3 separate regions of the Homo sapiens genome follow, and regions 1 and 3 are each linked to region 2. Evidence: fine-mapped expression QTL. A gene starts in region 2. Each other region holds a variant in brackets. All regions are shown on one strand. Distances are from middle to middle.

Region 1 (2,844 bases), 74 kb after region 2:
GTCTCCCTATGTTGCCCAGGCTGGCCTTGAATGCCTGGGCTCAAGCAATCCTCCCACCTCAGCATCCCAAACTGCTGGGATTATAGGAATGAGCCACTGCACTCAGCCTGGCATTGCCCTCTTTTTCTAGCCTCCTAAAGCACCAACCCCTCTGGGAGGGGAGCCTGTTGGGCAGATACCACCTGAGCCTGAAGGTGGCCAAGATGGTGGTGTCAGCCCCATATGAGGGTCACATGAGACCTCCTCATGAGGGGACTCGGCAGCCTGGAGAAGGAAGTGACCAGGGGGCTTCTTACACTCAGAATCAGGGAATGGCCTGTTTTCCTTGTGGCTTCCCCTGAGCTGCTGGGCTCGAGAGTGCTAGAGGGGGCCATTCCTCTGATCCTGGGCCATCCCCCTCAACAGCTCAGAGAGGTAGAGAGGTGGGAGCACAGGGCTGAAGCAGACCTGGGCCCCTCTCAGCCCTGCCCCAAGCACCAAATCAGCTCCCACCAAGACCCTGGCCCCATCCCTTGCAGCCCAGGTGCAGTCAGGTAGGCTGACCCTGTCCTGGTGGGACTCACCTGCACCTGGGCTGGGACTTAAAGGGGCTGCAGGGCTGGGTAGGGGTGCTGCCAGCAAGACAGGATGGGGGCTCCGGGGTGGTGGCCCCTGCTGCTCTGGGGGTATCCATGGCTACAGGATGAGTCTGATGTGGGCTGAGCCTTTCTCTGCTACTCTTATTGTCCCACACTGGCAAGGTCCCCTTCCCAAGCCCCTATGGCCTCTGCCCAGTCACCTGTCACTCCCTCCCAGCTCCCTTAAAGGCTTTAAGCCCCGCCTTGTTCTCTAGCCCCCGACCCCACCCCCCATTCCCTGTCTGAGCTGGCACTCACATCCTTCTCCAGCCCAGCATTTTCCCAGCTCATCTTCTCCCCCGGCAGTCACAGCCCCATGCGGGGTACATTCACACCTGCATCCCTGTGACATCTCCTGGCATCTACCACCAATTCCTTGCTCACTCACTCTCCACTTTCCACTCTGCAGGCTCTCCCTCAAGCTGGGATCTGTGCAGGCCACATATAGGCTTTGTGCTCATGGGCCTAAGCGCCCAGCCTTGTCCTTCTCCCCATCACCTGCCCTCCTGTGCCTCTATGCCTTTCCTCACAACACACTGTTCCTCAGCTGCAAATCCTTTTCCTCTTGGCCAGCTATGAGCACCCTTCAGAACCAGCTCCAGTGCCCCTTCTGTTGTTGCCCCTTACTATGCCTTACTGTGGGCCACCTCTGCCCTTGACTGCCCCGTTGGTGGTAACTTGTGAGGAAATACCGGGGTGCAAGTTTGCAGATGCCTGGCACATAGTAGGTGCTCACAGAAGGGGCTTTGAGGCACTCCCAGGCCAGGCTGATAGGGATGAGGTCGGTGGACATCCTGTCTGTAGGGGGAAACACCACCATCTCCACAACCCCCCAACATTTTACCCTGCTCCATTTATTATTATTATTATCATTTTGAGACTGAGTCTCGCTCTGTCACCCAGGCTGGAGTGCAGTGGCACAAACTTGTCTTACTGCAACCTCTGCCTCCCGGGTTCAAGCA[G/A]TTCTCCTGCCTCAGTGTCCCAAGTAGCTGGGACTAGAGGTGCATGCCACCATGTCCAGCTAATTTTTGTATTTTTAGTAGAGACGGGGTTTCACCATGTTGGCCAGGCTGGTCTTAAATTCCTGACCTCAACTGATCTGCCCACCTTAGCCTCCCAAAATGCGGGGATTGCAAGCGTGAGTCACTGTGCCCAGCTCCCTGCTCCATTCTGGAGATGCAGGGAATTAATTGAAGGTGGGGGATGCTGGGGGAGGTTTTTGGGCACCCTCTGCTGGCCATGTTCTCGCTGAGTCTGGTTCTCCGCCTGAGCTAGCCTGGGCTGGATTGCCAGGAGACAGCCTCCTGCAGGACTGTAATCAGACAGATGTCCTCCTGGCAGTGAGGAAGGAGCCCCAGGTGGATGCTTGCCACCTGTGCCTTGGCACCTGCCTGCCCTCCCCAGTCCCTGCCATACCTGGCTATGAGGTCTTCACTGCCCCATTCAAAGCTTATGGCTTCATCCAACTGGTGAGGGGGCTGTTGGAGGCTCACGAGGACAAGGCTGCCAAGAGCCAGGGAGTACCCGGGAGATTCGGGGGAGAAGAGCTGGGGTGTCTGGGCTGGAAAGAAGGGTAGAATCAGATCATACTGATTTGCAAGTCACAGCCTCTCCGAGTGTGAGTTTTTCTCTCAAAGATGCAGAGCCCTGTATCTCTGCAGAATTCAGTAGCTAAGGATTTGATGCAGATTTGCCATTTAGCATCTGTGTGTTTGTACGTGCCCTTTACGTGCATTTGTTTCTTGCATCCTCAACAGCCCCGTGAGGAGATAAAACCATCATTCCCATATTCCACATGAAGACACTGAGGCTCACAGAAGGGAAGACCCCACTGTCTACCACCAGATGCAACTCAGCACATCATTCTTCAAAGCAGAATTGGCTTTTTTTTTCCTTGAGACAGGGTCTCGCTCTGTTGCCCAGGCTGGAGTGCAGCGGTGCAATTATGGCTTACTGTAGTCTTTACCTCTCAGGCTCAAGTGATTCTCACATCTCAGCCTCCCAAGTAGCTGGGACCACAGGCGTGTGCCTGGATAATTTTTTGATTTTTTTTTTTTTTTTTTTTTTTTTGCAGAGACTAGATCTCGCTATGTTGCCTAGGCTGGTCTCCAGCTCCTGGGCTCAAGCGATCCTCCCACCTCGGCCTTCCAAAGTGCTGGGATTACAGGTGTGAGCCACCGAGCCCTGCCAGAATAGGCATTTAAGCAAGACAGGGACCTCGAATGAG
Region 2 (2,500 bases):
TATTACCTTATTTTCCCCCAATGCCTGGGAAAATGCCAGGGACACACGGGCACTTAAATATTTGTGGAAAAGGCATGGCTTCTTCAGTCATGTTCCCCCCCCCCGCCCCCCTTATTCTGAACCCAAAGCAATGATCAGCGTATGTGTTCAATAAATATTTGCTGGATGAATAAAGGATGCTATTTCCCTTCCCTAGTCACCTACCTGGCAAACTCCTATTCCTTCTTCTAAAAGAAATTTACCTCTCACTCTTGTGGGCTTCCCTACCTTAATATCCCTTCTAGCCCAGCAAACAATGTTCATTAGATTTGTACCTGAAACTTCTATCACAGGGCATATCACACCATACTACAATGGTTTGTGCACATTCGAGATTGGAGAGCTTTATTAAGGGCGGGCTGGCACTGTATCATCGATGGCCATTGGGACAACAAACATTTGGTGAGCATTCTCATATGTCTGTCTTCTCGTTAGCCTGTGAGCTCCCTAGGCAGGGACCATGCCCCATTCATTCCGGTAATGTGGGAGCCTGGCACGGTGTCTGGCTTGGGGCAGACACCGAAATAGATGCTGAGAATTAACATCCAAAGATGTACCGTGCAGGCTGGGAAATTAGCCATTACTGGGGAAAGGCTGTGGCCGGCGGCCCCAACTGCTACATAAGATCAGAGGATGGGCTGGATCAGCGCCTCTCGCACTTATAAATCAATCACCTTAGGATTTTGTTCAAATGTAGATTCCTATTTAAAAGATCTACGGCGGAGACTCCACATTTCTAAGAAGCTCCCGGCTCGTGCCGACGGGGCTGCTCCGCGGACCACTTAGAGAATCCCGTTCAGGGTGGCTCATTTCGCTACCAGAACACCACCATAGCGCGGGAAGCGCGCAGCCTCTTGGGACTTGCAGTCCCTCCAAGCCCTTCATAGCGGCCGGCCGCTTATTCCTGTGCGAGTAAGGAGCGCCCAGGCCAACCCTCCGGCTGCAGGCTGAGGGGCGGGGGAGAGGTACCTGTTTGGGCTCCGTGGGCACGGGCGGCGGCGGGGGCACCGCCTGCACGGGTCCGGCCGGCATGACTGCGACGCTCAGGGCTGCCAGTCCGCCTCGGTGTCGGTGAGCGGTGCCGCCTCAAGACAGCCTCCCCGCTCGGTCAGTACGACGAGCTCGCAAGATGGCGGCGGCCGAGCGAGTTGCGGCCGCGAAGGTACGACTGGCGCACTTCCGGGACCGTCCCCTCGCCGTGACGCGCTTCCCGCCCCTCCCCGCGGGCACCGCGGCGTCCGACGCCGTTGCCAAGGCAGCGGCCTGAGCGCCCGGCTAGGGCTTTTCGGGGATCCCGGTGGCCGCAGGCGCACCGGGGGCAGTTCCGGGAGCCGACCAGACACGAAGGCTGAAGCCGCGACGCCGAAGACAGGTGAGATGTTGTACGTCACCCGCCGGACCCCCGCCGCACTCACCTCGCGGCTCCTTTACTCCACAGGCCAGTACCTCGCTCCCTTCGACCCCGCCTTCCAAGAGCCCAGCTCCCTCCCATTGGTCTCTCATTTAGGAGAGCCCCTGTCCCCTCAGGCTCACCGCCTAAGAGCCCCACTTCCCTACTCCCTTAGTCCCCCCTTTCATTTCAGACCCACATCCTCCAAGCCCCGCTTCCAAATCCTACGCCCTTAATTCGCTTTTCCCACGGAACCTGCCTTTTCTTGCTTCCATCCCCTGCCTTCCGTAGTCCCGCCCTCAAGCCCCACTGGGGGCCTCCCTCTCAAATCAAGGCTGCTGCTTTCTTTGTCTTTCTTTTTTCTTTTTTTCTGAGACAAGGTCTTGCTCTGTCACCCAGGCTGGAGTGCAGTGGCGCGATCTTGACTCTCTGCAACCTCCGCCTCCCGAGTTCAAGCGATTCTCCTGCCTCAGCCTCCCGAGTGGCTGGGACTACAGGCGCCCACCACACCCGGCTAATTTTTTTTTTTTTTTTTTTGGCATTTTTAGTAGAGACGGGGTTTCACCATGCTGGCCAGGCTGGTCTGGAACTCCTGACCTCAAATGATCCGCCCGCCTCGGCTTCCCAAAGTGTTAGGGTTACAGGCGTGAGCCACCGCGCCCGGCCAGTTTTTAAATTTTTTTTTTTGTAGGGACATGGGAGGACGTCTCCCTATGTTGCCCAGGCTGGTCTCAAACTCCTGGGGTCAAGCGATCCTCCCGCCTTGGCCTCCCAAAGTGCTGGGATTACACGCATGAGCCATCACGCAGGGCTGCTGCTTTAGGCTTCACCCCTCACTCTCACAGATGCAGCCCTGCAAGCTATGCGGCTCGCTCCCCAGAGGCCTACCTCGAATCCCGCCGGCTTCTCTCCCTCTCCTGCGATTCCCCCCTCTCTCCTTCCTCCTCTCCTCAACTCTGGAAAGCGGGGAGCTGGCTCCGAACCTGTTCCTGGACTTCAGTTTCCTCACCTGTGAAATGAGGGAGTGATAGGAAAGGTTGCTCTCTCAAGTCTTCCCCCTCCCCCCACACA
Region 3 (2,813 bases), 26 kb before region 2:
TTCGAGACCAGCCTGGCCAACGTGGTGAAACCCCGTCTCTATTAAAAATTCAAAAATTAGCTGGGCGTGGTGGCAGGCGCCTGTAATCACAGCTACTCAGGAGGCTGAGGCAGGAGAATCGCTGGAACCTGGGAGGCAGAGGTTGCAGTGAGCAGAGATCACACCACTCCAGCCTGGGTGACAGACAAGACTCCATCTCAAAATAAATAAATAAATAAATAAATAAATAATGGCCAGGAGTGGTGGCATTTGAAGCTTGCAAAAGGAATTGCAAATTCATTATTGTCTTGAGTGTTCCCCATCACAGCCTGTGGCTGCAGCGGGGGAGTTTGCCCAATTTAACCTATGGCACGTGGCTTGGGAGACTTCACTTCGTGGCTGTGCCCCTCAACAACTGGGTGTCCTTGTGTGAAATTGCTAACTTTTGTATTTTTTTGTAGAGATTAGGTCTTACTATGTGGCCTAGGATGGTCTTGAACTCCTGGGCTCAAGTGATCTTCCCGCCTTGGCCTCCCAAATTGTTGGGATTACAGGCGTGAGCCTCCATGCCTGGCCAAACTCCAGAGTTCTTTATTTAATACACCTATAATGAGCCAGACATTAGTGCAGGGGTGTCCAACCTTTCGGCTTCCCTGGGCCACACCGGAAGAAGAATTGTCTTAGGCCATACATAAAATACACTAACGATATAGCTGATGAGTTAAAAAACATTGCAAAAAAAAATCTCATAATGTTTTAAGGAAGTTTACAAATTTGGGGCCGGGCGCGGCTCATGCCTATAATCCCAGCACTTTGGGAGGCCGAGGAGGGCGGATCATGAGGTCAGGAGATCGAGACCATCCTGGCTAACACGGTGAAACCCCGTCTCTACTAAAAATACAAAAAATTAGCCGGGCGTGGTGGCAGGAGCCTGTAGTCCCAGCTACTCGGGAGGCTGAGGCAGGAGAATGGCGTGAACCCGGGAGGTGGAGCTTGCAGTGAGCCGAGATGGCGCCACTGCACTCCAGCCTGGGCGAAAGAGCAAGACTCTGTCTAAAAAAAAAAAAGAGAAAGTTTACAAATTTGTGTTGGGCCACATTCAAAGCTCTCCTGGGCCATGGGTTGGACGAGCTTGCTCTAGTGAATAAGAGAGATGAAGTCCTGGCCCAATAGAGTTTATAGTCCAGTGGAGGAGGGACAACATGAACAAGCACAGAACATCTATCAGGTAGTGAGAATAAGAAAATAAAGCCAGGTAAGGTATGGAGAATGCTGGAGTAGGTGTTGGGGAGGTGGTATGGGCTGAAAATGAGGGACCCCTTCTGCAGGACTGAGAATAGTGTACAAGCATGGCAGCAGATGATTTTCCCCTTGAAGGAGAAGGAGGCTGTGTTGTTAGATTGGAGTGAGAAAGCAAGGG[C/G]AACAGTGAACCAATGAATAAATGATCAGAAAGGAGCCCTGCAGAATCACGTGGTTCACTGGAATAAAGAATTTAAGAGGCCTTAGGCAATGCTGTGGAACATCCTGGTGAACTGGCTGTTGGAGACATTCTTTTGAAGATAGAATGTGTTGATATCCCAGAGTCTCATCCTGCTGGGGTCATTCCCAACAGCTGGGCTTGAGGATCTCACATAGGCCCCTCTCCTGGATCCTGGAATGTGCAGTTGGCATGTGCTCAGGAAACCTGTGAGCACTGGCCATGAGCAAAAGTCCAGATGCCCTTTTTTTTTTTTTTTTTTTTTTTGAGACGGAGTCTTGCTCTGTTGCCCAGGCTGGAGTGCAGTGGTGTGATCCTGGCTCACTGCAACCTCCACCTCCCGGGTTCAAGAGATTCTCCTGCCTCAGCCTCCCAAGTAGCTGGGATTACAGGCACCTGCCACCTGTTATAACAGTATTCTCTGTAATGATCTATTTTAATTTTAATTTAAAAAAACTTTTTTAGAGATGAGTTCTCACTATGTTGTCTAAGCTGACTTTGAACTTCCTGGCTCAAGCAATCCTCTTACCTCAACCTCCCAAGCAGCTGGAACTACAGGTGTGTCACTGTGCCTGGCAGGAGTTTATCTTGTCCTGCTTCATGGACTGTAGTGTCCAGGGGTACCTAGAATTGTTCACTTACATGCTGGGAGCAGTGTCAGGGCATGGTGTCAGGGAACTCACCAGGCAGTGTTCTTTTATATAACAATGCAGCCTTTTTTTTTTTTTTTAGACAGAGTTTCAATCTTGTTGCCCAGGCTGGAGTGCAATGGTGCTATCTCAGCTCACCACAACCTCCACCTCCTGGGTTCAAGCGATCCTCCTGCCTCAGCCTCCCAAGTAGCTGGGATTACAGGCATGTGCCACCATGCCCGGCTAATTTTGTATTTTTAGTAGAGACAGGGTTTCTCCATGTTGGTCAGGCTGGTCTTGAACTCGCGACCTCAGGTGATCCGCCCGCCTCGGCCTCCCAAAGTGCTGGGATTACAGGTGTGAGCCACTACACCTGGCAACAATGCAGAATTAAAAAAATGTAACAATACAGAATAGTTAACAGCAAATCTCCATATCTGGTAGAGTTAATGATCATAACTCTTAAGATCTTACATTTTGCTTTTATTTTTAAAAAGTAAACTTCTAAAAATCTTATACACTGGTATGTGTACCCATGAGTAGAGCTATATTATGCTTTCTTGTCTAATTACAGGGATAAATGAAATATGATTGCTAATAGTACATGTATTTCCATTCAAGTATATATCCTAACATAACCCAATATAACCATTTAATATATTCTCTAATACAATATTATTAATTTTAAAGTAAAATGGTTCTGATCATTACTGGCCTCCTCTAAG

Which allele goes with the higher level. Alleles are on the strand shown, and positions count from the first base shown. SD is a standard deviation of normalised expression in the study named. Not every link is listed here.
In carriers of allele A in region 1, the expression in monocytes after LPS of the gene that starts at base 1,286 in region 2 tends to be higher than with G alone (moderate effect, 0.54 SD a copy in Quach 2016).

What was found. PIP is the estimated chance that this variant, and not a neighbour inherited with it, causes the effect.
Region 1: its variant is the best candidate, but not a certain one, in a credible set for the expression of CCDC157 in monocytes after LPS (Quach 2016, PIP 0.55).
Region 3: its variant is the best candidate, but not a certain one, in a credible set for the expression of CCDC157 in whole blood (INTERVAL, PIP 0.50).

The regions. Positions count from the first base shown.
Region 1 is chr22:30,429,234-30,432,077 of GRCh38, forward strand. No RefSeq gene overlaps it. Among named protein-coding and RNA genes, the nearest start is that of MTFP1, 4.9 kb to the left of the region's middle. The variant G/A (reference allele first, on the strand shown) is at 1,580.
Region 2 is chr22:30,355,722-30,358,221 of GRCh38, forward strand. CCDC157 (coiled-coil domain containing 157) reads left to right here and starts at 1,286. Exons shown (of 12, transcript NM_001017437.5): 1 at 1,286-1,411. It overlaps SF3A1 (splicing factor 3a subunit 1), which reads right to left and starts at 1,173. Exons shown (of 16, transcript NM_005877.6): 1 at 1,009-1,173. The coding sequence starts at 1,071. RefSeq lists a silencer at 870-1,119 and an enhancer at 2,055-2,500.
Region 3 is chr22:30,329,438-30,332,250 of GRCh38, forward strand. SF3A1 (splicing factor 3a subunit 1) reads right to left here. Exons shown (of 16, transcript NM_005877.6): 16 at 2,551-2,813. Among named protein-coding and RNA genes, the nearest start is that of TBC1D10A, 3.9 kb to the left of the region's middle. The variant C/G (reference allele first, on the strand shown) is at 1,400.